Linked DNA regions of Homo sapiens: regions 1, 2, 3, 4 and 6 are each reported to be linked to region 5. The links are microRNA targets in miRTarBase. Many come from high-throughput screens and were not tested one by one. Region 5 holds a microRNA gene; each other region holds the end of a gene's coding sequence.

Region 1 (5,063 bases), not on the chromosome of region 5:
GATGTCAGTAGACTGCCGCTGCCACGGAGTTTCCGGCTCCTGTGCTGTGAAAACATGCTGGAAAACCATGTCTTCTTTTGAAAAGATTGGCCATTTGTTGAAGGATAAATATGAAAACAGTATCCAGATATCAGACAAAACAAAGAGGAAAATGCGCAGGAGAGAAAAAGATCAGAGGAAAATACCAATCCATAAGGATGATCTGCTCTATGTTAATAAGTCTCCCAACTACTGTGTAGAAGATAAGAAACTGGGAATCCCAGGGACACAAGGCAGAGAATGCAACCGTACATCAGAGGGTGCAGATGGCTGCAACCTCCTCTGCTGTGGCCGAGGTTACAACACCCATGTGGTCAGGCACGTGGAGAGGTGTGAGTGTAAGTTCATCTGGTGCTGCTATGTCCGTTGCAGGAGGTGTGAAAGCATGACTGATGTCCACACTTGCAAGTAACCACTCCATCCAGCCTTGGGCAAGATGCCTCAGCAATATACAATGGCATTGCAACCAGAGAGGTGCCCATCCCTGTGCAGCGCTAGTAAAGTTGACTCTTGCAGTGGAATCCCTAGAACCTTGGACCTGAGAGTTTCCCTTACCTGATCGACATATTTTCCTTTATCTGATCAACCCATCAATCATGTGGATTTCTTGGGATTCTAATGTTGAAAAGGTTTATATTCACCTTTTGATGATTTGGGGAATATATATTGACATACAAGGAAGATAATCTGTTTCCTAAGCAAGAAATAACAGGAAAGATCCCTTATGCCAGGAGGCCTGCCATACTCAGGATAAGATCCTTGAATATGGAACTTAGTTACAGGACTCAATAATGGTGGGTGAACATTAGTCATTTTTAAAAGACACCTCTTATAGCAATAAGGAGACATTAACATGAATCTCATTTATTCTCTCAGTATTTTAACTGAAGAAATTATACTGTTTGTGTGTGGATAGAAGATGTTGAAAAGTTAACATAAGCATTGGGTGCTGACTTACCCTTTCATGTACTTCCAAAGAAAGGTAATCAAAAAGAATCTTCTTAAGTGATATAATATCCCTAAAAAAATGATCATTACAGATGTTTAGTGACAAAGAATCAATATGTAAAAAGTATAATGAATGATTTAGATTTTAAGTGCCTTTTCACTGGGAGAATCTGGAAAAACCTCCATAAGGTATATAGCAATCTTTGATCTTTAGATTCATACTTTTATCACAGATCAGTTTCAACTGTTAAAAACCCACCTCTGAGATACTGGGGGGAGGATCCTGAAACATGCGGGAAAAGGAGAGGTAAACAGTGGAGGTAAAAATATAATTTCATACATTGTAAAGAAAAGCACCCTTTAAATGTGTAAAGACAGTGTTTTGTAAAGAATTTTGTTTAAAAAGTTTCTATTTTGTAAATACAGTACTTAAGTTATATGATTTATATTAAAACATTTATTGACAAAGCCTAAGAGCTAAGGCAGTAAAATTATCTCATAAATAATATTAGCTTATTTTTTTTCATACTATTAATGCTATTTTTTTGGACATCGAAGAGAATTTAACTTAGCAGTTAGTTATATGGATGTGTATTTCTTGCTAAAATGACAGTTTTATATGTTATAGATTAAAATATGTTGCAAAATATCAAAAATTTGTGTTATTTCAGCAGTAAGATTAATTGAATTCTCTTTTCACATTAGTTATGCTTAACTCATAAGGTTATTATAATAAATTATATTAGTAAAAGTCTTAACTGGAAAAAAGAATCTAAATCAGAATAGTGATCAATTTGTGGATTTGATATCCTGGATATTTATTATATTTTATGTAATGCTGCATTTCTATTTGAATGTTAAGTGGTCTTTCTTGTTTTTAATATTCATGCATGTATATTCATCATATTTTACAAGGTTCCTGGTAAAAATTACAGGGCTCTATTTAAGGATGTATTTTAATGTAAATGCTTATGTTTTTTATGAATTGTTAAATATTTCAGTATTATATAGAAAAAAATAGATTTTTAAAATTCAGAATGGACAAAGAGAATATTCATTTTCTTATTAATAAGATAAAGAAATGTTTCCCTGCCCCACAGTCTTCATTCTATTTCTCTTTAATTTTATTCACTGAGGCAGAGAAACAATTTTTGAAAAAGAGCAAACCCATGGAAAATGTCTCAGATCTAATATTAAAATCAAGACTAAGCATTTAACTGTGATTGTAAAGTTTGACAAAGTTATTATTTACTAAATGAGAGACACAGAAATGGCAAATATATGAATATAGTGCATATTTAAAAGTGGTTTTCCAGTCTTTAGCATCCCTTGAACAGAATAATCTGAAAATATACACTCTCTCCTGCCTATTTTTTTCAAAGTAAATCTATTTTGTCTTCTTTGAACATAATCACCCATTTTTAAAAAACAGAAAGACTGTAGTGTCTATTAACAACCAATTTCTTCTATTAATTAGAAAACCTTTCATAATTACCTTATCAACTGACTGTGAGAATCAGGCAGCCTCTAATTTACAAAGACTTGATTACTGTTCAGCCATTCCTTTAAAACAGTGATGCTAACTCAGGCACCTCTCTCTGGGATGCCTAAGCAAAAACTCCTCCTAACTCCAAACCTGTGTCTTTGGGTTCTTCTTTTCTTCTCACCTTTGGTATCACCATGGAAGCCATCCTTAAGTTTCTCACTTTTTTTTTTTTTTTTTAAGACAGTCTCACTCTGTTGCCCAGGCTGGAGTGCAGTGACCCGATCTCGGCTCACTGCAACATCTGCCTTCTGGGTTCAAATGATTCTCCCGCTTCAGCCTCCCAAGTAGCTGGGATTACAGGCATGTGCCACCATGACTAGCTAATTTTTGTATTTTTGGTAGAGACGGAGTTTCACCATGTTGGCCAGGCTGGTCTCAAACTCTTGACCTCAAGTGATCCACCCACCTCGGCCTCCCAAAGTGTTGGGATTACAGGTGTGAGCTACCGCGCCTGGCCATCACCTATCTATCTCTCTTATTGGCTGACAGCCTGCCCTTAGCCCATTTCCATCCCACTCCCAGTCATGGTAGAGGAAGCACCATGGTGCTCCTGGGAACACAATTCTGGGACCCAAAGGCTCCTATCTAGTCTAAACCACATTGCCTGCATTCATTAGGGCCCCTTATGTTGCAAGTAATGGAAAACTCAACCCAGACTGATTTAAACATTAAATATGTTGACTCAGTAACTAAAAACTTCAAACTTGTGACTGGTTCAGGGGAAGCTTGATCCACAAGCTCACACCATGTTCCCTGGGCTCAGGTCTCTCTATTACTTTAGGCTGGCTACTGGCCAAGTCTTCTACTTCAGGGTTCATGCAGTGCTGTGTCCTAACCTCTTTCAAAGTCTCCCACCCCTAGCATCTCTGGGATCTCTACTTTTCTTAGCAACATGGCTGCCATGCTTCCAGACCTCACATTCTCCTACCTGCCACTCATTCTAAGGAAAGAGGGGTCCCATCCTCAAGAAAGAGAGGTTCTCTCCTGGTTTGCTCACACAGATGGAAAGAAAACCTTTTCTTTCTCAGAGGATTCAGCAAAGGTCTTCTGAGTCTCAGTGGTTCTAATTGATTAAATGTGCCTCTCTCTGAAAAAATCACCATGACCATTGGGAGTTTTGGGTGAGCCATAGGTACATTGAACCATCTTAAGGCCATCATGACCCTGGAAGTGGAAGTGGGATTCCCTGGAACTAAAATTACACAGCGTGAGAACAGAGACGGGGGTGGTTTCCCTAAAGGAAAACCAGGGTGTTATGTTACTGGTAAGGAGTACCTGGACGCTGGGCAGCAAAGACATTATATGCCTTAGTTCTAGTGAGCTGTTTAGGAAACAGCTTTTGATATTACATGGAGCTCACAACAGACAAAGCAAGCCCTAAGCACTGTGGATTATGAATGTGGGTTCAAAGTGCTTTGATTTGTTTAAATACCTTGCATAATGTTAAAGGGCGAAGGGAGGTGCTCCAGTGGATTATTTTTCAATTTAGGAGTTCAAATTCTTTGTAAATTTGGAACTGCCTAATAAAGGCAATGGTAAGAGGCAATGATTCATCCTGAAACAAAGTCAAGAAAAACATATTAAATGATATTATCTGTAACATCTGGATTAGGAAGTTGAATAATTAAGGCATTTTCCTGATAATGGTACTTTACACAACATTAACAACATGTTAATTCTTTTTAGTATAAACAACTGCATTATTTCTTTATTCACAATTCGGATGATAGTCATTTTGTTTTCTATTTTAAGAGACTATGATAATTATATTAAAAATAACAACAAAATTTTAATTTTACACATTAGATGCTGTGACCTTATGTTTTGGCAGCTTTAAAACTATGTGATATGCACAGTAAGTATTTTAAAACACATTTTAATTTTCTCCAGGACTGTTAGTACTAATATGATATTTGTACTTAGTTTAAATATTTGTACTAAGTTTATTTGTACTAAGTTTAAATACGTAGTAGAAACAGAAAAGCGTCTCATCAAAATACTTATTTCTAGGCAATTTAGTGAGTTGCTCATCCTTTTTGCATCACCTCCCAAAGGTCATCAAAGATTGAGAAATTCGACTCACTATTTAGAGGCAGGAAGTGATCTGGAACACTGATTACCTTAGGTGATTTGAGGGAAGAAAAATTTGAATCCTATCTTCAGAAACCTCAAATACTCCTCAAGACAAGCCTTTCTTAAAGAAAGTTGGCTAAGATGTCTCCTTTTTGAAATTAATTTAAATTTTACTATAGACCAGATGTGATAAATCATGACATTTCTTGGGGGCAAGATGATGACACGTGGCACAGCATGACAAGGGACACAGTGATACACAAGGAAAGGACTAATTTACTTTGAAAGAATAAATAATATTAGCAAATACCTCCATAGCACTTAGTATATACCCGTATTAGTCTAAGTAAAAAATATATAGAGAGATACATATAAAAATTCAATCTTCACAACAACCTCGTAAAGTAGGTACATTATTGTAGTTTTCGTTTTACAGCTGAGGAAACTGAGACACACA
Region 2 (5,074 bases), not on the chromosome of region 5:
GTCTCTGCTGGAAGAGTACAACCCTGGACAGAACTCTAAAATCTATGTCCAGTTGGCATTCCAGATTTTTTAAAATCTGAATTAGGAAATGAGCTGTGTTACCAGTAATCTAGAAACTATTTCAGATCTCTTAGTTATTGCTCACATGTAAATGACTCTTTACCTTAACATTTTAGGTGCAGTTTTTGTCAATGGAAAAGAAATGACAAATCAGTTACCCGCAGTTACTTCTGGGTCCACTGTCACGTTTGACATTGAAGCCGTGACTCTAGGAACCACCAGTAATAATGAAGGTGGACACTTCAAGCTTCGAGTAACTATAAGTTCAAATAATAGAGAAGTGGTTTTTGACTGGTTACTTGATCAGTCTTGTGGTTCTCTTTACTTTGGATGCTCATTTTTCTATCCTGGATGGAAAGTGTTAGTGTTTTAGATGTTTGGGTGCTTGGCTTTGGTTTTCAGGGTCTAACGTAGCTGTCCTCAGCCCAGCGTAGTTGTAATTGCTTTAAAAAAAAAGTTGAATTCATCTCTAACTTAGGCCATTGGAAAGTGTTTACTGGATTCATTTTGTAATATTTTAGCAAAAAGAGACTTCAATGTTGTGGACAAAATCATACAATTCAGTCAATTTTATTTTTAGCATACTGTTAAATATCACATCACAATAAAAATCAAATTGGCATTAAAAGTATAGAAGATATAGGAAGTTCTATACCCTTCCACTGTACTTCTCAAAGTTGGTTATTAGACCAGGAAAACTTAATGTAATATTATTTTTAAAATCATCTTAAAGGATCCAAGTCCATGTAACTCTTTAGAACAAGAGGAATAGGTCAGATAGAAGAAGCTGTGTAATGTATTAATACATCCGTTCATGTGCTGTCCACATGAATGTGTTGACTGTGCTCTCCATGTTCAGGTATTTGTAAGCAGTGTTGACTTTTATCCCCTCTTCAGTAATCTTTAAGTCCCCAAAACATTATAACTTTTTCTTTTTTTGTTGAGACGGAGTCTCACTCTTGTCACTCAGGCTGGAGTGCAGTGGTGTGATCTCAGTTCACTGCAACCTCTGCCTCCCACGTTCAAGCGATCCTCCTGCCTCAGGCTCCTGAGTAGCTGGGATTACAGGCGTCGGCCACCACACCTGGCTAATTTTTGTATTTTTAGTAGAGACAGGGTTTCACCATGTTGGCCAGGCTGGTCTTGAACTCCTGACCTCAGGTGTTCCACCCACCTCAGCCTTCCAAAGTGCTAGGATTACAGGTGTGAGCCACTGCAGTGGACCAATTTTTGTATTTTTTTAAATGCTTGACCAAGTGTCTAAAATAGGCAAGTAGTACCTTTTGTTCTTTCATTGCAATTTGATACAGTATAGGCTACAGTATTTTTACAGGGTAAAACTAGTTATGGCAGTAGTATGCACAGCAGTGTTAGCCATTTCATATGTATGTAATATGCACGTGTGTATCCAATCTGCCTGTGACATGCATTTTACTCTTTGCAGAGAATGAGCTGCAGTCCAGTTTAATGTCAGTTTAATAAGTGGTCTCTTTTTAGCAGAGCAAAAAAATATAGCGTAAATACTTATTTTTTTTAAAAACTTACTTAAATTTGTGTGTAAAATATTTATTTGAAGGACTTTAATATGTAAAAATAATTGTCTTCTATGCCACCCTACAGATTTTATTTTAATGTGAATTATTTTTTTCATTTCATTTTTACCAGTATAGTAAAAAAGTAGAAAAGCAAGTATGATATTTTTGTAAGATAATTTATTTGGGGATTCATGTTCCCTGTTAGACAATCATGACCTTTTCTACTTGTCTTTTTATATATAAGTAGTAGATTTCCACTTGTTTAGGGATTAAGAAGATGTTCTAGAATGTAGATACCTTGTCCAGCCATAGGAATCAAAATAAAAAACTAAAAAAGTTCAGTGTGTGTACTTTTTTCTTCTGTGAGATTTGGTGAATCCAGTTTTAACCTACTTTTCATTTGAAGGGAAAACAGGCTTCTTGTGGCTCCAGGCATTTTAGTAAGATATCACTGTGACTTGTGAAAGGGTATGTGTACCTTCTTGTACTTTCTTTTAAAAACTTTTTTAAAAATATTTTTTGTAGAGAATGAGGGTCTTGCTGTGTTGTCCAGACTGGTCTCAAACTCCTGGCCTCAAGCAGTCCTCCCCAGCCTTGGCCTTCCAAAGTGCTGGGATTATAGGCATGAGTGACCACACCCAGCTGGTTACTTGTACTTTCCTATATTCTGTGTCTGATACTGAGCATCTTGCCTGACACAATGTGTGCAGAATGAATGGTGGATCGAATGAGTCGTTTTCTCCAGATATCTTCATCTCATTCCTTTAATTCATCAAATATTTGTTGAATGTATTTATTTCTTAGCCTCTCTAGGGAAATGACATCTTAATTTATACCTATAGAATCTGCCTGTTCACAGGAGTGCCTTAAACCTAATTTGAGACAGGAGTGGTAATATTTGGAACTCTGAAACTAATTTTTTTTGAGACAGAATCTCACTTTGTTACCCAGGCTGGAGTGCAGTGGTGCAATCTTGGCTCACTGCAACCTCTGTCTCCTGGGTTAAACGGATTTCCCTGCCTCAGTCTCCCAAGTAGCTGGGATTACAGGTGTGCACCACCACACCTGGCTAATTTTTATACTTTTAGTGGAGATGGGGTTTTGCCATGTTGGCCAGGCTGATCTTGAACTCCTGGCCTCAAGTGATCCTCCCACCTTGGCCTCCCAAAGTGCTGGGATTACAGCCGTGAGCCACTGTGTCTGTCCTTGAAACTAATTTAAATACTGACTTTTTTTCTTGAACTGTGAAGATTTTTTTTAAAAAAATGAACTCATTAGCTGGGCGTGATGGCTCACGCCTGTAATCCCAGCACTTTGGGAAGCCAAGGCAGGTGGATCACCTGAGATCAGGAGTTTTGAGACCAGCCTGGCCAACATGGTGAAACCCCGTCTCAACTAAAAATGCAAAAATTAGCTGGGCATGGTGGTAGATGCCTATAATCCCAGCTACACAGGAAGCTGAGGCAGGAGAATCACTTGAACCCTCCGGGAGGTAGAGGTTACAGTGAGCTGAGATCACATGATTACAGTCCAGCCTGGGCAACAAAAGCAAAACTTTGTCTCAAAAAAAAAAAAAAAAAAAAAAAAAAAAATCATTCTGTTCAAGTAAGTAAGGGAACCTAGTACTCCAAACCTATGTGCTAGGAGGGAAGAGTTTGTGTGATGATATGATCACAAGAATTGATTTTTTGGCTGGGCATGGTGGCTTATGCCTAGCCATTTTTTATTCACTTAAAAAAAAAATTTGGCTGGGTGTGGTGGCTCACACCTGTAATCCCAGCACTTTGGGAGGCCTAGGCTGGTGGATCACCTGAAGTCGGGAGTTCGAGACCAGGCTGACCAATATGGTGAAACCCTGTCTCTACTAAAATTACAAAAATTAGCTGGATGTGGTGGCGCACGCTGGTAGTCCCAGCCACATGGGAGGCTGAGGCAGGAGAATTGCTTGAACTCGGGGGGTGGAGGCTGCAGTCAGCCAAGATCTTGGCACTGCACTCCAGCCAGGACAACAGAGCAAGACTCTGTCTCAAAAAAAAAAAAAAAAAAAAAAAAAATTTAGCCAGGTGTTGTGGTGCCCACCAGTAGTTCCAAAGCTACTCAGGAGACTGAGGTGGGAGAATTGCTTGAGCCTGGGAATTCGAGGTTGCAGTGAGCCTAGGCAACATTGGTAGACCCCATCTCTTAATAAATAAACACAAACAAAACAAAGAAATAGAGCAACTAGATAGATAACAAAAGCAAAATCCCCTGGATAATATCTACAGTAAGACTAGGTGACCACTTACCCCCTCAAATCCCAAAATACAAGCTAGTGAAGACGAACTACAAACAGATACAAGACCTGCATGATCTCAGTGTCTGTGCAGGATGAAGAAGGCGCAAAGCCTGACAGATGTGATGACAGGCGAAACCCCATATCATCGACTGGAACTCCTGGAAAGCACCATGGAACAACTGAAAAGTAGCAACTGAAACTCTAGAAATTTGTTTCCCTCCAATACCAGATGAATGCAAGTGGGCCATGCGTGGTAAATGTGTTCAGGGGTGCTTAAGATCACTTTCACTTTCAATTATTTGCCAGGACTCACAGAACTCAGAAAAGCTCAGAACACTCATGGTTACTATTTAGTAAAGCAAAAAGACACAAATTAAAATTAGCAAGTTTGGCCGGGACTGCTGGCTCACACCTGTAATCCCAGTACTTTGGGAGGCCAAGGTGGGAGGATTGCTTGAAGCCAGGAGTTGAAGACCAACCTGGGCAACATGATGAGACCCCCATCTCTACCAAAATAAATTTTTTTTAATTAGCCAGGCATAGTCAGGCATTAGCCAGCTACTCAGGAGGCTAAGGTGGGAGGATCACTTGAGTTCAGGAGCTTGAGGCTACAGCGAGCTGGAGTACAGTGGCAAATGTAGTTCGCTGTAAAAATAAATGGCCAGGCACAGTGGCTCACGCATGTAATCCCAGCACTTTGGGAGGCCGAGGCCGGCAGATTACGAGGTCAGGAGATGGAGACCATCCTGGCTAACACGGTGAAACCCCGTCTCTACTAAAAATACAAAAAAATTAGCCGGGCGTGGTGGCAGGCGCCTGTAATCCCAGCTACTCAGGAGGCTGAGGCAGGAGAATTGCTTGAACTTGAAAGGCAGAGGTTGCAGTGAGCCGAAATTGCACCACTGCACTCCAGCCTGGCGACAGAGCAAGACTCCATCTCAAAAAACTATTTAGACTAGAATGTAGTAAAAGTGTGTTCAGAGACTAGTTTGGACACAGCACTCCACAGGAATTTATCTTATAAAATACTTGATACAGGTTCAAGTATAATCACTATTAACATTTTTGACAAGATTTTAAAAAATCAAATAACCCACTTATCTATTAGACCAGCACTGGTTTAGTCAATTAAGGAACCCAAAAAAACAAAACAAAACAAAAAAACTCAGAACGTTTAAAAAGAAGTAAATCTATATGCTCTGAC
Region 3 (5,074 bases), not on the chromosome of region 5:
GCTACTCGGGAGGCTGAGGCAGGAGAATGGTGTGAACCCAGGAAGCGGAGCTTGCAGTGAGCCGAGATTGCGCCACTGCAGTCCGCAGTCCGGCCTGGGCGACAGAGCGAGACTCCGTCTCAAAAAAAAAAAAATAATAAAAAGTTATTCATGTACAAGGCTGAGTACAGTGGCTCACGCCTGTACTCTCAGCATTTTGGGAGGCCAAGGTAGGAGGATCAGGAGTTGAAATCCAGCCTGGGCAACATAGCAAGATCTTAAAAAAAATTCATGTACAAATCTTTGTGAGGGCACATGCTTTCATTTCTTTTTGTAATATCTATTAGTGGAATTACTGGGTCGTATATTAAGGGTATGTTTAACTTCATAAGAAATTTCCAAACTCTTTGCCAAAATAATGTATCATTTTACACTTCTACCAACAATGTATGACGAGTTCCAGTTGCTTCATAACCTTACCAACATTTCATTATCGGCCTTCAAATTATAGCCCAGGAGGCCCGTCCAGTGGGAAAACAATGGAAACTATAATATATAAATTCAAATTTTCTAGTAGCCACAATTTAAAAAGAATAGTTGAAATTTATTTTAAAATTTTAATCAAATCTATTCAAAATATTATCATTTCAACATGTAATCAGAGTAAAAATTATGGATTTTTTTTTGCACTCTAGCTCCAAAATCTGATTTATATGTTTACAACACATCTCAATTGGGACTAGTCATATTTCAAGTATTCAATAGCTACACATTTTTAATAGCTGCTGTTTATATAGCTGATAACAGAGCTATAGACATTTCAGCGGGTATACAGTGGTAACTCATTGTGGTTTTAATTTGCATTTTCCTGATAACTAATGATGTTGAGTATATTTTCATGTGTTTTTTGGCCATCTGTATATATTCCATTGTAGTAGTATTCACACAGTATAATTGTAGTATATTCACACAATGAAAAGTACTCAGCAATAAGAAGAAATGAAGTCATGCAATAACTTGGATGAATGTCAAAACTTTATGCTGAGTGAAGAAAGCCACACACAAAAGATGTGTGTGATATAATTCCATTTGTATAAAGTCTTAGAAAAGGGAAAACAAATAAAGAAAGTAGATCGGTGGCTATAGTGGGGGTGTGTAAATGATTGCAAAACTGAAGGACAGAAGCTTTTCGGGTGATGGAAATGCTTTATATCTTGGAGAGGTGGTTACATGAATATATGTATTTGTTGAAACTTACTGAATTGCACATACAACATGAGTGAATTTTATGTAAAATATACTCCAATAAAATTGACTTAAAGAGTATAAACATTAGTGGTATCTACTACGTAATCTGTGAGGTCAGTGAAAAATAAAACCATGGGGTCTCTTTTTCAAAAGCTAAGAATTTCAAGACCGTAACAGCACAGTAAGCTTGTCTGTCATTGAATCCCCAGTGATAAGCAGAACAGTATATCTTATAGTAGGTCCTACTAAAGCTTTGTTGAATGATTTAAAAAACTTGAGCATCTTAGTGCCCAGCAATTTCCATTCAAGAGTAGCATAATATCCCTTCCCGCTTCTGCTATTTGTTCCCTAGACTGGAGGAAAGAGTATGATACTGGATACAATTTAAAAAACCATGCTTTTCCTAAATATGATAGAAACAAATACTCATTTAAAGTTCTTTTATTTTTAAATTCTTGGAAGGTATGAAGAAATACAACTCAAATAACTAGCATGAAGAGAAGATAGTTCGGTTCAGTAAGTAAAAATTATACAGGTATCATAAAATTCTTGTTCTTAGGGTATTCTACAGTGCAAGTTACAGGCTGACTTACAGTCACAGTGTTACACCTAGTATAGGCCAAAAAATGAGCTAGGTAATAGGGATAAAGAGGTAAACAAAACAGCTCCTTTTTTTTTTAGTGGTTTGTCTTCTTTAGAAATCGACTTATAGATAGATATCCCAGTTATCAACGTTTATAAGGACTCTCCCTAAATACATCTAATCTATATTGCCATAGACATTTCATTGGGATTTTGCTCCAGTGCTCCTTAACATAGCTCAGAATTATTATAACAGAGGTACTTGGACTTTATTTAAATGTATTATGAACTGAATGTGTCCCTCCTCCCCCACCCCATCGAAATTCCTGTGTTGAAGCCCTAACTCCCAGGGTAGCTGTATTTGCAGTAAGGATGGAATTAAGGTTAAGAGATCATAATCCTGATCTGATAGGATTAATGTCCCTACAGGAAGATGCCAGAGGCTCACTCACTTCCTCCCTCTCTCTGTGCGTGCACAAAGGAAAGGCCGTGTAGGATGCAGGCCATCTGCAAGCCAGAAGACAGTCCTCAACAGAAACTGAACCCTGCTGGATTTTGATCTGGAACTTCCACCTTCCAGAACTGTGAGAAAAAAATTTTCTGTTGTTTAAGCCACCCACTCAGATATTTTGTTATGGCAGCCTGAGCCGATTAATATGTAAAACATTCTATATAAAATATGAAACATTTGACTCAAATAAAGCGACTGGCTTAATCACAGTCACATAATCTTGTAGCATTCTAAGACTTATATGTGTATATACACAACATAATGGTATGAGCCCTAAAAATCTGAGTGATTCATACAGAAATTTTTCCTAAAGGAAATGTAAATTGATTTTACTTTATTACTGACCATCCTAAACCAAGGGGTATATATTTTCGAAAAACTTTCTGAAAAGGAAAACTGGGTTTTAAATGATCAAAGATACCATTTAAATTTAATATTTAAAATGCCTGCAAGGTGGCTAAGTGTCACTGTGACTCACACTAACAGTTTCATTTCATAAATGCAAGTGTGAAATGATGAGATAACAGCATACTAATAACTGAACAATCTGCTGAAAAATATGGCCAAAAATTTCTTGAAAAATCTTAGAGAAGAAATAGGTGCTTCCATCCTTGTTCCATGATAACTTGGTGTTAAAAAAAAAAACATAAAGCAGGATTAGCATGTTACGGAGCACACAGAATAGTGGTTACAATGCTTTCACTTATTTTACTTAAATCAAAGTCTTCAAAATAAACTAAAGCGCAACTAAGAGATTGGAGAAGAGAAATAACTAAAGAGGAAGCAGGTGATGAATGAAGTGCTAATAAGACTGTACATTTTTAGGAAAGACAGTGGAACAAATGACATATGGTATTAGTATTACACAATGATTAAGTGTCATATTCTGTGGTAACACTCTTGAGTCTGAACTCTTACTCTGCCAATTACAAGTTACATAACCTTTGTTAATCTATTTCCCCTGTCTAAGCCTTGGATTGATCTTTGGTAAAATGGTAAAAGCAACAGTACCTAACCTGTAAGTTGATAATTAAGTGGCATGACACGTTAAACATTTAGCATAGTACCTGTAACATGTTAGCTTTTATGTGAATCATGTATTATTTCTTCTTTTTAAAAGTAAAACTACTGATATGACCCAAATCTATGTGAATGTGGGTATTTTGAAATAAATTGATGTGGGAAAAGTGTCAAATTAATTTTTATATTTGCCTATTGCAAAGGCTCCCTGCAGACTCTGAACTGCCATCTCAACCTTTTCTTTGGCTTAAAGTCTTTGCTCCAAAATTCATCCAGGGAATTCATTAGTCCAGGGATCCCATCTGTGGGCTCTAGTTGTTTTCCTGACATGCGTACTGAGATTATTTGAGACTATCCTTTTGATTTTTCTGTCTTAACTACTTGCAGTTTCCTCCATCTCAGCCCAATGTATCATAGCTGCCAGCGTATCCTGCTGTCACACATTTATTGGGCTTGTTGAATGCATATAATATGGCTTCAAGGCAAATACACTGATTCCACTCTCACATTCTCTTGCAAGCCTCCCAAAGCTCTGCCTCTCATTTTAAGAAACTCTGCCTTAAATAATCAAACAAAGACATCTGCCAAAAACACTTGGCTCTGCAAATAGCAAGCAGATTCATTGCTCTTCCTGTCATTGGCAAATGGCAGCTTGGAAATTAGAACCGGGGAGAGTAAAGAGGCTGGTTACTGAGAACTCTGATAAAGACAGGGGACAGGTGAATTTTGAAAAATTTCTAAGCCAAAGAAATACATAAAAGAACTATTCTTGAAATGTCCAGGAATAGTGTGTGGGACCTTGCACACAGCAGGTCCTTAGTAAATGTTTTATAAATTATAAATCATGGCATTACTTCTGCCAGAGACCGTCAAATTATCATTTCTTTTTAGTCTTTCCCTGCAGTCCTAGAGTATCGTGTAATATATAAATAGATGAAATCAGGAAACAGTATTTCTCCTTGTGGCATTGACTGGTTTTAACCATTTTCATGTGCAAGCATTCCCTGTTCATTTTTGAACTATGTTGGTTTTTCTTTATATTGATAATCAAAATTATGTTAAGGCCCTTAAAGAAGAACACAGAGTCTAGTAAGAAGAAAAAAGACTTTCAGAGGTTTTTTTTTTAGGTCATTTAAATGTGTTAACAGTTAGGTTACAAAAAAAATAACATTCTGTCTCTGTTCTCAAATTTGAGTTAAGAATTTTTCTCCTTTTAAAAACTTTTAAAGGTCCAGCTTTTGAATAAAAAAGTCGAAATTACTCTAAAATATACGAATTCCAAATACAAGCTCCTATTTCATTTTGAATGACTTTATTGAGAACATTTTGCAAATTAGATTTTACAATTTAACATTTTACAATTAGAAATTTTATCTGCTATTACATAAGCTGCAAACTTTTCAAAAACACTACAGAAAATCTTTTATTTCTTTGGATTTTTCTGTTCCATGTTGAGCTCCTGAGATATATTTTTTCTTTCAGCTTCATTTTCATCTTCCTGTGAAATAAATTTTAGAAAACATTAAAATATAAACTTTAGAGCATTTATCAGCTATACTTGACAGATTTTAACTGCATCTGTAGAACTATGAACTACTGTGATTCTAATAATCCTAAACACAAATGGTAAAATTATGTAACATTTAAATATTTGCAATAGGTGCTGTTTTATAGAACACATTAAAATTTTCTGTATGTTTTTAAAAGCAACCAATTTTAACAATGCCCTAAAAA
Region 4 (5,074 bases), not on the chromosome of region 5:
TGGGCGTTGCTGCAGCCTGCAGCCCGGCCCGAGTCTGTCCCAGTGCCTCCTGTGTGCCTGGCACCTCCTCAGGCATCTTCCTGGCTGCCCCATGTTGCAGCTGAGCCTCAGCGTCCTGCTAGAACTGCGTGTGGGATTTGCTCACTGCCAGGATGGGACTGTGGCTGGAATGGAGGCAGAAAGAAACACATCTCAAAGGCAAAAATGACGCACGTTGTTGTCTGGAAAAATCTTAAGTGACCACAAATGTGTCTCCCGGTTTCTTTTTTAGTTTTCTTGAGACAGAGTCTCACTCTATTGCCCAGGCTGGAGTGCAGTGGCGCGATCTCAGCTCCCTGCACCCTCCGCCTCCCAGGTTCAAGCAATTCTCCTGCCTCAGCCTCCCGAGTAGCTGGGATTACAGGCATGCGCCACCACACCTGGCTAATTTTTTTGTATTTTTAGTAGAGACGGGAGGGTTCACCATATTGGCCAGGCTGGTCTCGAACTCCTGACCTTGTGATCCGCCCGCCTCTGCCTCCCAAAGTGTTGGGAATACAGGCGTGAGGCACCACACCCGGCCATGTGTCTCTGGTTTCTGTAGTATGAGAGTTCCTCGAAGATGCTACAAAGCCGCAGGAACTGAGGAAACACTGTCCACCCCTGGCTCTGAGAAATGCTGGGTGTGTTTTCTTAGGGAAGGAGCAGAGTCCTGCTGTTGCCCTCCTCCTGACATGTGTGTTCCCAAGTCTCTCTTCACCGGCCCGTGGGCTCCTAGCCTCACCCAGGAAGGGACCTCCTCCCTCGGCTGCTGTTGGCTCAGGTTCCCTGCGCCTCCCTGAGACAGCCCTTTCTAAGACACTTTCCTCTGCTGTTCCAAAGACCTAGGGCCACTTGTCCCCACTCACCCACGTTGCCTGGACACCTGCTGCTGACATTGATTGGTGGATCCGTGAGAGCATTCTCTGTTCCCAGCAGTGGGGCACGCTCGTGCACGTGTGAGCACATGGGAGAGCATAAGGCTGTCGAAGTGTAGCCAAGCACCTCACGGAAGAGAGAATCCGTGGCTTTTTTTTTTTTTTTTTCCTTTTTCCTTTCTGGCAATAATGAGGCAGGAGAAAAGTCTTGTCAGTTGCCACGAGAGGGATAATCACACTTGCGGCTCTAATACTTCCCTCTAGAAGGAGGCTCCGTAATCAGACCTTTTGTGTGGTGAGGGTCTGGACCCCCTGGGGACAAATCGGACTTTCTGAGGTGGGCAGGGGCTGTGTTTTCTGAGGACATATGGCAGCCTTTAGTTTTAAGAGTTGGGAAGGAAAAGAAGGAACAGTGAAGCCTGTGGCTCCATGATGTACTTTGCAATCCTGGGCCAGGGGTGGAAGGAAATAATGGAAGACTTCCAAGCACTTCTTCCAGAGTAGCTGGAAAACCACTTTCAATTCTACCTCTTTGCAGCCACCCCCTGGCACAGGAAGGGCACGAGCACTGACGGCCACAGGGTCACCCGGCACACTACTGGGTCTGTCTGGACCAGACCCACTGCCAGAGTGGCCACTTCACATGTTGGCTTTTTGAGACAGCGTCTTGCTCTGTTGCCCAGGCTAGGGTGCAGTGGTATGATCATAGCTCACAGCCGCCTCGAATTCCTGGGCTCAAGGAATCCTCCTGCCTCAACTCCCCAAAGTGCTGGGATTAGAGGTGTGAGCCACCATACTCAGCTCGCTTCACACATTTTTTTTCAGAAAGAACCCTCCAAAGAACCCAAAGAAACAGAATAAAACTCCAGAAAACAAAGAGGAGAGTTTAGTTTGAGCCAATACACAATGAATTTTATAGATTCTTCCAAAAAGTCTCTAGGTATACTTAGGCCACCAGGTACAGTTAAATGACACAGGACACACATCCAATGTAAAATCAAGTTTTATATGATTCAAAGAGAAAAGTTACATTACACATGCTCGTTTAAATAATGTCAAAGTCTGTTACATAAAACATAATTATGAAACATTTTAAGTCTTATCATTCAAACTACTTAAAAGGCTCAAAGTCACAAAAGATCAAGCAAAACTGCCCAGGCAATAAAGTGCACGAGGGGAGCCCACCTCTCCAGCGGCCGTCAGCACCCAGAGCCGCCAGCTGAGGGCTCCATGCCGAATCCATACACAAGGTTTGTGGTTCTCAGAAGAGTTTTCAGACAGGAACTGTTTCCAACTTAAAATCTTTCAACAGACAAATGGAGGTGGAAGGGGGATGGTTTACACAAAGTATTTCCAAATGTAATCAGGAAATGGAAGTGTAAATTAAAACCGTTTTCAACATGTATCTCCTCTTTAGAAATATCACTGCTTGGAGAATGTTGTGACAAGCAACCAAATACTCAAAAGACCTTATCCACCAGAATACTGGCAGGACTCACATTACTTTGCATGTCATAATTAAGAAAAATATCCAAATTTGATGCCATTTATAGTGTGTACAGTCAAAAATGTGTATGCTGATTTTGATGAGCAGGAGAAAGGACTGGGTGGTGAGGAAACATGAACTATGCACAACATGAGACAACTGTGCTGTCTCACGAAGACACGACACTCACCTATGGAGTGTCCAGACTGAAAACCTCTGAATAACACACACATTTGTGTCAAGTAACAGCTGATACTAAGGGGCAAGTTAACAGGTATCAAGTCACACACAATGAATGACCAGGTGGAGATTTTATCAGACTACAAAGAACAAAACACAAAACCTAATTTTATTCAATATTCCACCTTACCATCATTTAAATAAAGGTAAATGCTGGTAATTAACATAGACAAAATTTAAATACATACTGCACAATAAAAAAAATTCCCAGGCTACCAAATTAGTGCAACATTCTGTATGTTCCTACATTTATTCCATTGCCTGAACTTCCAATGTTTAACAAAAACCAGTATCAGTGGCTTCTTGAACACAGGTGGCCACATTCTCTCGGTTATCTACGTGCTCATACAGTTGAAAAATATTGTCCATCTATTTTCTAGGTAGACTGTAAAACACACCATTCCAAGTAATTTTCTGTTTGGTCAAAACAATTTCCTTCAAACAAAATGAACAGAAAGGCAGTTGGGTAGTATTACTGCCATTTAGCGTAACTTGCATTTCCTTGTGTTTCTAGTATTTGGCAAACAAAGGAAGCGGAATCTTGGCACTGCCTGCCTTCACATGCATCTCGCCCCAGCTAAGCTGTGCTCTGGTGGAGTTTCATCCAACCAATACAGACATTTCCTTTTTTTCTGAGAAGTTACTCTACCCACAATATAGTACGGATAAGGCCACAGCAAAAGGAGTCAGAACTGACAATTGACAAAGCAGCTGGATTTGAGTGTTTCTTTTTTGGTGTTTTAGGTACAAACAAGAAACTGAATGGCTTGCTTTCAGCAGAGCCATGGCCAAGACTATTACAGACTAGATCCTGCAGCAAGTACTGGTCCCTGGGATCTGCCCAGTGGCTCATGTTACTCTCTGGGGTACATCCTTCATGACACACCATGGACACAGCTCACTAGTTCCAGTCAACCAAAATTTTAGTTCTTTGGTGACAGGAATGATTGCCTAGAATTTCCTTGAAAACGTTATGAAGAAGCTGACGGCAAAATTTATTTTTCCCTTTTAAGAGGTCCTTACTCAACCAGGTCCGATTCCAAAAAGATCTAAAAGGCCAGATAACTTGTGGTTTTTGTAGTGGAATAACATGTCCAGTTTACTAAAAGAAGGGCCATTAGGAAAAACTTTGTTATTAAACACTGAAAAGAAGGCTGCAAAATGATCTAGCTAGAAATTGGTGATTTGAGCACCAACAATATAAATATTTTTCTAAAAACCAGTATAAAAATTAGTACCCTGTCTTATTTCTACAAAACATCAATAGAAAAGGTTGTAAAAATCCAGATTTTGTAAACTTTATTGCCGAAATATTTGTTTGAATGCTGGTGATTCAGATTATCAAATTTTCTACCATTTCTTTAAAAAAAAAACCAAAACAAAAAAACTTCTGAAACTACAAAAGATACTGAACAGGGTCCCAAGTGGAAAAGAAAAGTTAACATACTTTCATCAAAACCAGCTCCCCGATCTTCCCCTAGGCCGCCAAGACCGTTTTTTTTGGGTGAGGCAGTGGGAGAGGAATCCATCAGTTCCATTCCTGGAAAGAGGCTTTTTAAAAATCCCATGAGTGATGTCCTAATGGACCTTTCAGGCAGAGGCTGGCATGCTCACCAGTGGGCTCCCCGGGCTCTCTGCAGAGGCGATTCTGTTCAGCTTGCCAACCTCTGCCTGCCAGCCTGGGATCTTCTTGGTCGTCATGTGGCGCCGGGCATGCTTCGTCAGGTGGTCACTGCGCATGAAACGTCGGTCACACACCGGGCACACAAACTTCTTCTCCCCTGTGTGAGTTCTGCGGTGGCGTGACAGCTCATCCGAACGAGCAAACTTTTTATCACAGCCATCCCAGCTGCAGTTGAAAGGCTTCTCCCCTGTGAGGTGAGAAAATACATATTAAAGAGAAAGGAAACGCTAAGCACCTTATTCAAGGGGTTAATTCATGTCATTTTAAAATCGTGTTCATCAAACTCAGAAGAAAGTGGTATCTTATTACTCTGGAATTGGATGATTTGGGTCAAGAAATCCTCCAAAAGGCATTTATTCCTCCCACACTTAAGATGCAGCTATGTTAGCACCCAAAGATTTCAAGCTAATCTTTCAAAATATATTTAAAAATAAATCAGGCGAAGTACAAGTACAGCGGCTCAAACCTATAATCGCAGCACTTTGGGAGGCTGGAGACGATCAGTTGAGCACAGGAGTTCCAGACTAGCCTGGGCAACAAAGTAAAACCCAATCTTTACCAAAAAACAAAAATAAATTAATTAAAAATGTAGCATCCAGCCAGGCGCAGTGGCTCACGCCTGTAATCCAAGCACTTTGGGAGGCCGAGGCGGGCGGATCACAAAGTCAGAAGACCGAGACCATCCTGGCTAACACGGTGAAACCCCATCTCTACTAAAAATACAAAAAACTAGCCGGGTGTGGTGGCGGGCACCTGTAGTCCCAGCTA
Region 5 (5,074 bases):
GGTGGTTGCAGAGAAAGGGTGGGAAGGAGGACAGGAAGGACGGCGTGTCCAGCGGGCGGGGAGCCTTGGTCTGGCCTGAGGGCTGAACCTCCCTCGGGTCCTGAGTGTGCCTGGAGTAGAAGCCTAGGGTCTCTGGGCTCCAGGCAGGGCCCTGAGCAAGGAGGGGCCACAGGGCTGCCCACTTCCTCCTGCCCCCCTGCAGAGGCGGCTCAGCCCTCGCGGCGTCTGAGGCTTGACTGCCTGTGTCTGTGTTTGTGGCCGGTCTGCCTCTGTGCCTGGGTCAGACCCCAGACCAGCAGACACACAAACCGCAGGGACGGCTGGGCAGGGTCAGGAGCCTGCCCCGCCCGCACCCCCACCCACACCCCCACCCCCACCCCCGCCTGCACCCCCTGCCCTCAGACGCTGTGCAGTGAGCGGGGCAGCATGGGAGAGGGGTCTCCAGGTGGCGGGGACCGTTCTGTCTCGAGAGCCTCGCAGACACCGGGCCTTTGAGAAGAGAAGGGGCTGGGCAGGGAAGCAGCTCCTGGAACACCATCCTGGAGACAGAGGCCCTTGTCCCCTGCCTCAGACAAGGCAGCACGTGGGGCCCGGGGGGCTGGGGCTGCTGTCCAGGCCTTCCTATGGGACCACCCAGAGGGAAGGTCCCCCGCAGAGGGGTGGGGGCAGAGGGCCGAGCGGGGCGGGCAGAGGGCCCGTGTCAGCCCCACTCCGACCTAGTCCTCGGCCGTCTGGCCAGGACACTTCGGCCCCCCAGGTGCCCACCCCAGGACCCAAAGCTGGTGGCTGCTGGACTCGGCAGGGCTGGCGGGTGGGGCTCACCCGGGCCCCTGCCCTCCGGCGATGCTGTCCTCAGTGCCCCAGGAGGACGAGGCCCCCCAGCTACTGAGCTTCCCAGCGAGTCCCATGCAACCCTCAGCCGGGCGGCCCCCGGACCCAGCTCGGGCAGCCGTGGCCATCTTACTGGGCAGCATTGGATGGAGTCAGGTCTCTAATACTGCCTGGTAATGATGACGGCGGAGCCCTGCACGCAGCGACCGGCCGACCCCGTCCCGGCCCCCAGGGCCTCCCGCCGAGCCCCACACTCCCCTCCCACACAGCCCGCTCACCGGACCCCACCCCGTCCGGGCCAGATGGCTCTGGGGAGAGTGACGGGGGGACGTGACCTTCGGAAGGGGGCTGGGGCGCCCCCCACCAGCATCTCAGAGACCCCGGAATGCAAGGCCTCCTGCAGCTGCACCCAGGGCGCCCCACAGTGATCTGGGGATTAGGACGCTCAGGTGTCCGGGCCCTGCCCACAGCGCCTGGGCGGGAGCTGCTGTCACACCCAGCAGGTGCGGGCCGAGCAGGACCCAACAGAGGGCTCAGGAGGGCAAGGCCCAACCGGGAGCCACGTGGAACCCAGAGGAAGCCGCCCCACCCAGCTTGGCCACAGCCATCTTCCCTCCTGCCGGACAGGGTGGGCCGGCCACCGAGCAGACCAGTGCCCCCGCCTTGGTCCCGGGTCAGCAGCCCCAGGGTCCCCTTGCCCTGGAGGAAGCAGGGAGGGTGGGCCTGTGTGCAGTCTCAGGGCCCCCAAGCCCCTCTCCGCCAGCCCTGTCCGGTCCCGGCACCACCCCTGGCTGCTCACCGCTCCGGTTCTTCCCTGGGCTTCCACAGCAGCCCCTGCCTGCCTGGCGGGACCCCACGTCCCTCCCGGGCCCCTGTGAGCATCTTACCGGACAGTGCTGGATTTCCCAGCTTGACTCTAACACTGTCTGGTAACGATGTTCAAAGGTGACCCGCCGCTCGCCGGGGACACCACCGAGGCACATCCGGAGCTCCTACTCCAGGGATGGGCTGGGGCGGAGGGCCGAGCGGGGCCAGCAGACGGGTGAGGGCGGAGGGCCGAGCGGGGCCAGCAGACGGGTGAGGGCGGAGGGCCGAGCGGGGCCAGCAGACGGGTGAGGGCGGAGGGCTGAGCGGGCGGCAGAGGGCCTGTGTCAGCTCCGAAGTCCAGCCCCCAGGGGAGGGGCCGGCCTCTGCCGGGGGTGCCCCCGGGGTCACTCACGCCCAGGCTGGGTCTGACACCTTGAGGACCCCTTGGTGCCTCCACAGGTGGCCTGGAGGGCATCCTGCTCCCCCTCCCGGAGCCGCTGTGCCTCCCCCACCCAACCTCCCAGGCTGGGTTTTAGGGTGACCTGGCTCCAGGAAAGGCCATAGGGCTGGGATGCCAGGGCTGGAGAGGGAAGAGCAACAGTGGCCTCTCTCACGTGGTCCGGGCTCCGTGGAGGGTCTGCTGGGGGCGCAGGAAGGACAAGGTGGGTTCAGATTCCCGAGCCCCACCATGCAGGGGAGCGGGGACGCTCTGCGCTTGCCCTCTGAGGGACAAGGGGTCTCATTCCTTCCCCCAGTCAACAAGAACAGGAACTTTGTCCAAAACCCACCAGGCCAGGATGACCCATTGTTTCATCTTTTCCATCTGCAACCAGGGCGCCTGGGACCGCACCCCCACACAAGGCCCCAGCCTGGGGAGGGGGCAGCCACCGGGGAGAGGCTGCCCTTCACTGTTACTCATTAACCCGACCGAGCTTCAGGAAGCCAGCGAGGGGCTGCAGGGAACCTTTGCCAAGAGCAGGGCCTGGGTGACCAGGTGGCTCCCGGGTACCCCCACACAGCCAGGCTGGGCTGGGACCAGGTGCTGGGATGGGGGCTGTCAGGGAAGTGCCTCGGGGGCTCGTTCTGCAGACCCAGGAGGGATCAGGGCAGCTGCAGGAGGTGGCAGGAGCCGCCCCCGGGGCCTTCCCTTCACAGGCCCCGCAGACACCAGCCCAGGACCCGGAGGCCACCCACACCACCGCCGGCCGATGGGCGTCTTACCAGACATGGTTAGACCTGGCCCTCTGTCTAATACTGTCTGGTAAAACCGTCCATCCGCTGCCTGATCACCGTTAGAGGAGAGAGCTGCCTGCCCTGCAGCTCATCAGTGCAAAGCCGCCCGGTCTGGGGCTCTCATGCCCCCCTCACTATGGCCTGTGCCCATCCGCAGCCCATCAGTGCAAAGCCGCCGGGGTCTGGGGCTCTTGTGCCCCACCCTCGCCATGGCCTGTGCCCACCCGGCCTCCTGGGGCCCTCGAGCTGTAGTCCCCGGGCAGATGCTGTGGACCCCGTGCTATCAGCCTGGCCCCTGGGGTCACAGTCACAGATACCCGGAGCCCCACCCCACAGCCCCAGCCCCCTCGCCACCTGGGGAGGCTGAGACAGAAGCAGCTGGGCCCCCCAAAGTGCCTGAGCCCAGGGCACGGAGGAGCACAAATGCCCAGCAGGGACAATGTCACAGCGTCTCAGCGGCCAGGCAGCAGGACGCAGAGACCTCTGGGAGGTTCCCGGGGCCAGCCCTGGCCCTCCTCCTCCAGGGGCCAGCCGTGGGATGCAGACCACACTCTCCCTCCAGGGCCCATCTCTGGGGCTGAGGCGGGCGGGGCCGGTGCCCAGCTGCAAGACCATGGGATAGGGAAGGCAGGTGCTTGGGGCCACGCAGCCCTGCACTGGGGGCCCCTCCACCCCAGGCGGCTCACGAGGTGTCATCTGGAGCTGTCCCCAAGCCGGGATCTGCAGGTTGACCTCCCCCACCCGGGGCTATCTCCAGACCCTCTTTCCTCCCTGGGGAGATGGGGCAGTCCCCCGCAGGGCCAGCTGAAACCACCCCCATGCTGCTGCCGCCTGAGCGACGTGTGTGGGGAAGAACTTGGAGTGCCACCCCCAGAATGTGGCGTCCACCTCACCAGACCGCACGGGTGAGCCCTGGACTGCAAGGTGCATATAACACAAGGTTTGGACACACCTGGAGAGCTCGGGCCAGGCAGGGCCACACCTGTGAGCCTGAGCTCATCCAACACCGCCCGGAGCTCGGGGACCTTCCCCATCCCAGCACCTCCTCACCGCTGTGCCCGTCTGGCCAGTCCCTCCAAGCACCCCTCGGATGAAGTTGCGCCCCACACTGCAGTGGGGCTCACTCTCCACAGCGCCTGCTGCGTTGCACGGGGTGTGACAGGAAGGACCCTGCTGGGGCTGGCGGGGCCGTACCCAGAGCCTCCCTGTGCGGTTTCTCCTCCTCCTCCTCCTCTCCATAAGCACCGGGAACAAAACAGAAAAAAGTCTTTGTATAGTAATAAAGTCTGCAGTTCACGCACCCATGCTTGGACCAGCTCCTTATTTTAACCACACGTGCACAGACCCCCGCCGTGCAAAGGGCCCAGCTGAGGACAGAACCCCAGACACTGCATCCGGCCCCGGAGGCCCCCAAGGTTCCTGGGAGAGGCTCCCTCCCTCCCTTCCCTCCTCTTTCCCTCCCCCTCCTCCTTCCTCTCCTCCATCCCTCCTTCCCCCTCCTCCCTCCTCCTCCTCTCTCCGTCCCTCCCTCCCTCCTTCTTTTGCTCAGGAATCTTCCCTGACTCTCCTGTGGTCAGCTCAGGTCAAGGTTCTGGGGGAAGGGGGAGTCCCTGAGTGGAGACACCTCAGCCTGTGCTGAAGGGAGCTACCGAGGGGGCAGCCGGTGGCCCTGGGGGGCCTCTCTGAGCAGGTGACCAAGAGCGTATGGTGCCGGCCAGCAGGAGCGAGGGCTGCGGACAGGATGGAGGCAGCCAGGCGCCAGCCAGGAGGGCTTCCTGGTCCAGCCACACCTGCCCCGGTGACAGCCACAGGTTGGTGGCAAAGGGGCCACCTCCCTTCCAGTGGCAGGGCCTGGCCTGCCTGGAGACCCCACCCACTGCCCGAGAGGTGCCAGGCCTCCCCCATTCTGCCTGGCCCTGGGGGCTGCACCCACCTGGACACGCGGGCCGGGCACACCCACGGCCCAAGGTCCTGCTCCCACCTGCCCTGCGCAGGAACCTTGCTGGGGCTACAGGTATCCGTGGCTGCCACACCACCCAGATTTTGGGATTAAGGGGCAGAGTTTTCAAGTTTGAACTCAGGAAAGCTGTGAGGGACGAGGTAGTGCCTGGCTGGGGAGCCTGGGGGCTTCTGAGGGCGGTGGGGAGTCCTCAGGCCTGTGTGGGGCCCCAGGGAGGGGAGGCTGCAGGGGTTGGGGGACCTG
Region 6 (5,066 bases), not on the chromosome of region 5:
GAGTGCTAAAACCACAAAAGTCCCAGCAAACAAGACAGTTGCCCTAGTACAGAGTAGTAAGTGGCACAGCATCCATTTCTGGCCTTGGTAAGACATTGCTGAAAGAGCAACACTGTTGACCAGATGGGCTCTTCTAAATCTGATTTAGCTTTTAAGAGGGCCTGGGTGGGAAGAAGGTGAGGCCTAATAAGAAGAAACTTTTTCTCCTGTTGCCCCAAATTGAATTTAGGCTGATTGTCAGATCTTTTAGGTTTTCTCATTATCCCTATAGAAAACCAATTCTTGCCACATTCCTAGACCATAAGTACACTTTCTCATATCCTAAAGTTAGATGCTGCGAATTATTTCCTTCTTTTTTTTCCCCCTACAGGATGGCTGTGACTTTGTCTGCCGTTCTAAACCTCGAAATGTGCCTGCAGCATATCGTGGTGTGGGGGATGACCAGCTGGGGGAGGAGTCAGAAGAAAGGGATGACCATTTATTACCAATGTAGATTGCACTTTATATGTCCAGCCTCTTCCTCAGTCCCCCAAACCAAAGCTACACAGCCAGATTTCTCAAGCAGTCTCAACTCCAGTCCCTCATCTCACCCTTACTATTGCTCTTGCTTTCCAGTTTGCTTTTGATTTGCATCTTCTCACTAGTAAAACTGCCTTCCCTTTGTTCCTTATTTTCTGTTTTTTCTCTAGAGAGGTACAGTTGTAAGTCAGAGTTAATATAATAGGGCCTGTGAAAACAGAGGCTTTTGCATTGTCTCTTGACATCAGAAGTTACAATAGGCATATGGGCAAAATGGTGTAGCAGGCTCACTGGCCGTTTGTTTTTTAAACACATTTTCACAAGTTTTTGAGACACTGGATTTCTTTAATTAAAAAAAAAATGCCAAGAAACATTATTTATACAGGGTTGATTGCTTTCATGTTGTTATTCTGTACCCTATAGTAGCCTCCATGAGAATCTGGTATTTCTTGCTGCTTGGAACTACTTTGCAGTGATTACTTGGTTGCAGTCCAAGTACTCTCGTTTAGTCTGAGCCTGGAGATGTTCTAGACTTGCTTCTCCCACCTCTGAGATTAGGACAGGAAAAATGTGAAATTTCCCAATTACAGGATTATACGGTACCATCACATCATTTGTGGAAATTGGGGTGACTGTATAGCTGGGATTGGGCTAAGGACTGTGGTCTTATCTGTCCACATACAGCCAAAATGCCTATCCAGAAATCCAGTTCGTTGGAAAGGAAAATTGGTACTCCTGTGCCACAGGGGTTCCAGAAAAGGGAAGTCACTTTACCTTGCGGTGGTGGGATCCTGATGTCTTTCATCCATTTGTAGTAAAAGCTGGTAAAGCTTTTCTTACTCCTGGTTCCCTACCAGTATTTCTAAACATGTCGCACTTTCTCCACAGGCATGTGGTTTTGACCTTTTTTTCAATCTTCTAGAAAGGGAACGGAAGCAGAAGTGGGACATCGAGGGCTCTGCTGTCCTCTGCGCTGGGTGTGGAATGCTGCTGCACCTGTCCCTTCTGCTGGCTCAGGGAAGTGTCTTCTTGCCCACATTTCTGTGGGGAAAGGTTTTTAATCCTCTGATGCTTCCATCTTCCTGTTTAGGCCATGTGCCCAGAAACCTGGACTGATCTTTCTTTAATAGTGAACCCCTGGGCCACTGAAGAGTAACATGGCTCCACTGGACACAAAAGAGGGATGGAATCAACAGGCAGGGGGCCTTTTATAAGCCTTAGGAAAAGAAAATGAAACTATTTCATCTTTGGACTTTTCAATACTATTGGAGTGATTTTTTTCTTTCTAAACAGGGAAAATAATGTTACAAAAGCATCTTTTTTGTTATTTGTTTGCATCCCTCCCCCACACCCTGGTGTTTTAAAATGAAGAAAAAAAACCATCACCTTTTGTACAAAAACTCTTAATGATTAAAAAACAAACAAAACATATTGGCCTTGTCATTTGTGTGAAAGTGGGCAAAGACTGGAATAGAGTAAGACAACTGAAACCAATTTTCATCCTTTTACTGAGGAAAAAAATATTTAATATTTTTGTTATATAAGGAATAGTGCCTAAGGCAGGTACTTATACTCCTGACCTCAGCCCCACACACTCTGGTTTTATAAAGCTATAGGACAGAGCAGAGATGGAACTGAAAAACAGGGTAGAAAATAACATAAATTGGAGGGGAACAGTGGGATGCAGAAAGAATGACAACAGCCACATGTGCCCCAGTCAAATACTTTTAGTCCCTGCAGCAGAAGATGCCAACCAAGTCTCTATACTGGCTGGGGATCCTGCCATGGATGCAGGAGAAAAAATTCAATCACAAGGGAGTAAGTGACAACAAAAAGAAAAAACTCTGAGCCACAGCTACACTGGGAGGGGGGAGGACCAGATTTTGCTACTTCTGTCACACAAGCTAGAAAAACCCTACCTCTCCCATTGGGCAGGCAACCTGACATTCCACCCAGTTCCTTGCCTTACCATACTATGTATTCCTCCTCTTGGAGAATTAAGACCTGGGCTAAATGCTCCACTCCAGGATAAGGCTGAGCAGTCCTAGTTCTCTAGACTGCCTCTTTTATAAAGATTGGATTAAGGTACGTGAAATGGTGAGAACTGTAAAGATTTTAAAAAATAAAGTAGAACCCAGAGAAAATGTCAAAGCTGCCGCCATGTAGCACCAGCAACCAATTCTTGCACTTCTCTTCCCTGTCTCAGTAATCCCCTACAGAAGGTTACATGATTGGAACAACTCTTTCTTCCCTGCAAAGTCTGCTGGTACCAGGTTATAACCTGGACAGTGGAGAGTGTCTGCCTTAGGCTGGTTTGTGCAAGAGGGCCACCTTAGGTCTCCTTGAGGACATTTATCTTGGCGCAGATCTTGAGGGCAGGGCCCAGCTTGATGTTCATGGCACTCATAAGATGTTCTTCTTTAAGTAATAAAAGGGCCTGTCCATCAATCTCCTGTGAGCGAAATTCCTCTGCAATCTCTTGGCAGCCTAGAAGAAATGGTGAGAACATGTAGGTAATGCCAGATGATAGGAGAAGGGAAGCTAAATGAAACTGAGGTCTAGCAATGATTAATTCCAAAGTACCTGTCCTAAATTCAGTAATATGAAGTCAGATGGCAAGCTTTAAAAGCAAAATGAAATTAGAAAGCAACTGGTATTTAAAAAATGGCCAGGTGCAGAGGCTCACGCCTATAATCCCAGCATTTTAGGAGACCAGGGCAGGCAGATCACTTGAGCTCAGGAGTTCAAGACCATCCTGGGCAACATGGCAAAACCTTGACTCTACAAAACATACAAAAATCAGCTGGGCATGGTGATGCATGCCTATAGTCCCAGCTACTCGGGAAGCTGAGGCAGGAGGATCATTTGAGCCCAGGATGCGGAGGTTGCAGTGTGCCAAAATTCATGCCACAGCACTCCAGCCTGGGCAACAGAGTAAGACTCTGTCTCAAAACAACAACAACAACAAAACCAAAGTCCAAGACCAAGAAAGGAAAAGCAACTAAATTGTTCAACCACAGAAATAACTTCATTCAAATAGCTTAGAGACAGGGGAAAGGGAGAGAACAGAAATAAAAGCATGTTTTCTTTTATACTGGCAAAAAGATTCTTTGTGATATTTTTGTTTAAGGGCCCAGAATTCAGACAAATAGCAAGAAGGGTAGGGTGATTTTCATTTCCGAAAAAAACTCTTTGTCAAAATTGCATATAGGCTGAGTGCAGTGGCTCACACCTATAATCCCAGCACTTTGGGAAGCCAAGGCAGAAGGATCTCTTGAGCCCAGGACTCCAAGACCAGCCTGGGCAACATAGGGAATCCCTGTCTCTGTTTAAAAAAAAAAAAAAAGAAGACTAGCAAACAAGCCCTCTTTGAAGAGTGGGGCAACAATGGCCACTTAGTTTCTAATACCCTGCTCCACTGAAAAAAAAAATTTTTTCCCCATGGGAGGTATCATAGTTAATTACACAAAAACATTTTATCCAAAAATTTAGTGAGAAATGCAGCTACATCATAAGATGAGAATCAAACACTGTAAAATTGCTGACATTACAGAAGATAATGTCAACCCAGAAAAAAATTAGGAAGTCAACTTGAATATTAGGAGTAGAGCCTCTATATTAGCATTCAAGCTCCTACTGCTTAAAAGTCAATTACTTTCCCTCTTATCAAGGCCCCTGTGGGATGATGTTAAGGAAAACAACCTGGGTTCTGTTGAAGAGAGGGTCAGTACCTTGGAGAGAAGCAATAAACTCGTACACCTCCTCTACACTCCAACGGCTGGGATTACTGGACAGGAACACAGGGTTGATGCCATGTAATTCCGGTGTAGGTGGAGCTGTATTGGGATTCCCCAGGTCACGTTCTCCATGCCCAGCTCTTACTGATAAAGGCCCAGGAGATGTTGGAGAGAGTGCTTCATCATAACTGGAATTATCTGAACCCCGGCTAGAGTCTTCTTGACCCTATAGGGGAAAAGAGCAAACCAATGAGGTCAGTGTCAAAGGTTTATTCCTCTCTCTTTCTTCCCAAACCACCCTGGGTTGGGCGTAGAAGAAAAACTCATCTTATCATATGTGAAATAAGCAGCACTTTATTTGCAAATTCCCAAAATCTACTCTCAAAGTCTTTCAAATAGAAACTGTATCACTTCCTTGATTCTCCCCATGACCTAACAATTGATCTAGATTTTCTCTCAAGTACAATTGAGAGAAATTGAGTACAATTGAGTACAATTAACAATTGTACTCAAGTACAGTGTAAGGATTAATGGAAACATGAACCAGTAGTTGGGTAAGAGGTCCGGAGACAAAGGGGGTCAGGATCTCTTGGAATTTGTAGTAATGCAATCAATGTGAAACCAGAGTTCTCATCTCACACCCTCTTACCTGGGCAAATGAATTGCCCTGCAGGGAAAGAAAAAAAGACCCAGTTTAAAGGCATCTGGCTCTACAACAAGCAGCTCACCCGGTGGCACTTGCCCTGAATCTTGGCACGGGCAATGTCAGAGGAGCTGCGGCGGGGTCCACGCCTGCGAACGCGAGCATAG

What was found. Region 5 holds the annotated microRNA hsa-miR-429 (UAAUACUGUCUGGUAAAACCGU, at 2,888-2,909, shown strand). A microRNA usually pairs through its seed, bases 2 to 8, with sites in the 3' UTR of a target mRNA and lowers its output. Matches are read on the target gene's strand: a 7mer-m8 pairs with bases 2 to 8, a 7mer-A1 pairs with bases 2 to 7 and ends in A, and an 8mer does both.
Region 1: the mRNA of WNT16 is a reported target of hsa-miR-429. Seed matches in the 3' UTR shown: 7mer-m8 at 913-919 and 8mer at 1,986-1,993.
Region 2: the mRNA of CRLF3 is a reported target of hsa-miR-429. Seed matches in the 3' UTR shown: 7mer-m8 at 1,380-1,386.
Region 3: miRTarBase lists PHF14 as a target of hsa-miR-429. The part of its 3' UTR that is shown has no 7-base or 8-base seed match.
Region 4: miRTarBase lists KLF11 as a target of hsa-miR-429. Seed matches in the 3' UTR shown: 7mer-m8 at 2,378-2,384.
Region 6: the mRNA of M6PR is a reported target of hsa-miR-429. Seed matches in the 3' UTR shown: 7mer-m8 at 1,374-1,380.

Annotation. Positions count from the first base shown.
Region 1 is chr7:121,338,895-121,343,957 of GRCh38, forward strand. It overlaps WNT16 (Wnt family member 16), which reads left to right. Exons shown (of 4, transcript NM_057168.2): 4 at 1-2,210. The coding sequence ends at 451. Among named protein-coding and RNA genes, the nearest start is that of WNT16, 12 kb to the left of the region's middle.
Region 2 is chr17:30,779,546-30,784,619 of GRCh38, reverse strand. CRLF3 (cytokine receptor like factor 3) reads left to right here. Exons shown (of 8, transcript NM_015986.4): 8 at 177-1,936. The coding sequence ends at 433. It also overlaps the pseudogene SUZ12P1. Among named protein-coding and RNA genes, the nearest start is that of CRLF3, 43 kb to the left of the region's middle.
Region 3 is chr7:11,169,180-11,174,253 of GRCh38, reverse strand. It overlaps PHF14 (PHD finger protein 14), which reads right to left. Exons shown (of 18, transcript NM_001007157.2): 18 at 4,636-4,838. The coding sequence ends at 4,764. Among named protein-coding and RNA genes, the nearest start is that of PHF14, 200 kb to the right of the region's middle.
Region 4 is chr2:10,051,646-10,056,719 of GRCh38, reverse strand. KLF11 (KLF transcription factor 11) reads right to left here. Exons shown (of 4, transcript NM_003597.5): 4 at 1,884-4,493. The coding sequence ends at 4,213. It overlaps CYS1 (cystin 1), which reads left to right. Exons shown (of 3, transcript NM_001037160.3): 3 at 1-247. Among named protein-coding and RNA genes, the nearest start is that of KLF11, 11 kb to the right of the region's middle.
Region 5 is chr1:1,166,168-1,171,241 of GRCh38, forward strand. MIR429 (microRNA 429) reads left to right here and starts at 2,838; the gene lies at 2,838-2,920. It overlaps MIR200BHG (MIR200B, MIR200A and MIR429 host gene), which reads left to right. Exons shown (of 2, transcript XR_007065348.1): 2 at 1-4,171. MIR200B (microRNA 200b) reads left to right here and starts at 937; the gene lies at 937-1,031. MIR200A (microRNA 200a) reads left to right here and starts at 1,696; the gene lies at 1,696-1,785. RefSeq lists an enhancer at 4,639-5,074.
Region 6 is chr12:8,937,245-8,942,310 of GRCh38, reverse strand. M6PR (mannose-6-phosphate receptor, cation dependent) reads left to right here. Exons shown (of 7, transcript NM_002355.4): 7 at 371-1,950. The coding sequence ends at 493. PHC1 (polyhomeotic homolog 1) reads right to left here. Exons shown (of 15, transcript NM_004426.3): 13 at 4,985-5,066; 14 at 4,251-4,482; 15 at 844-3,006. The coding sequence ends at 2,852. Among named protein-coding and RNA genes, the nearest start is that of M6PR, 9.9 kb to the left of the region's middle.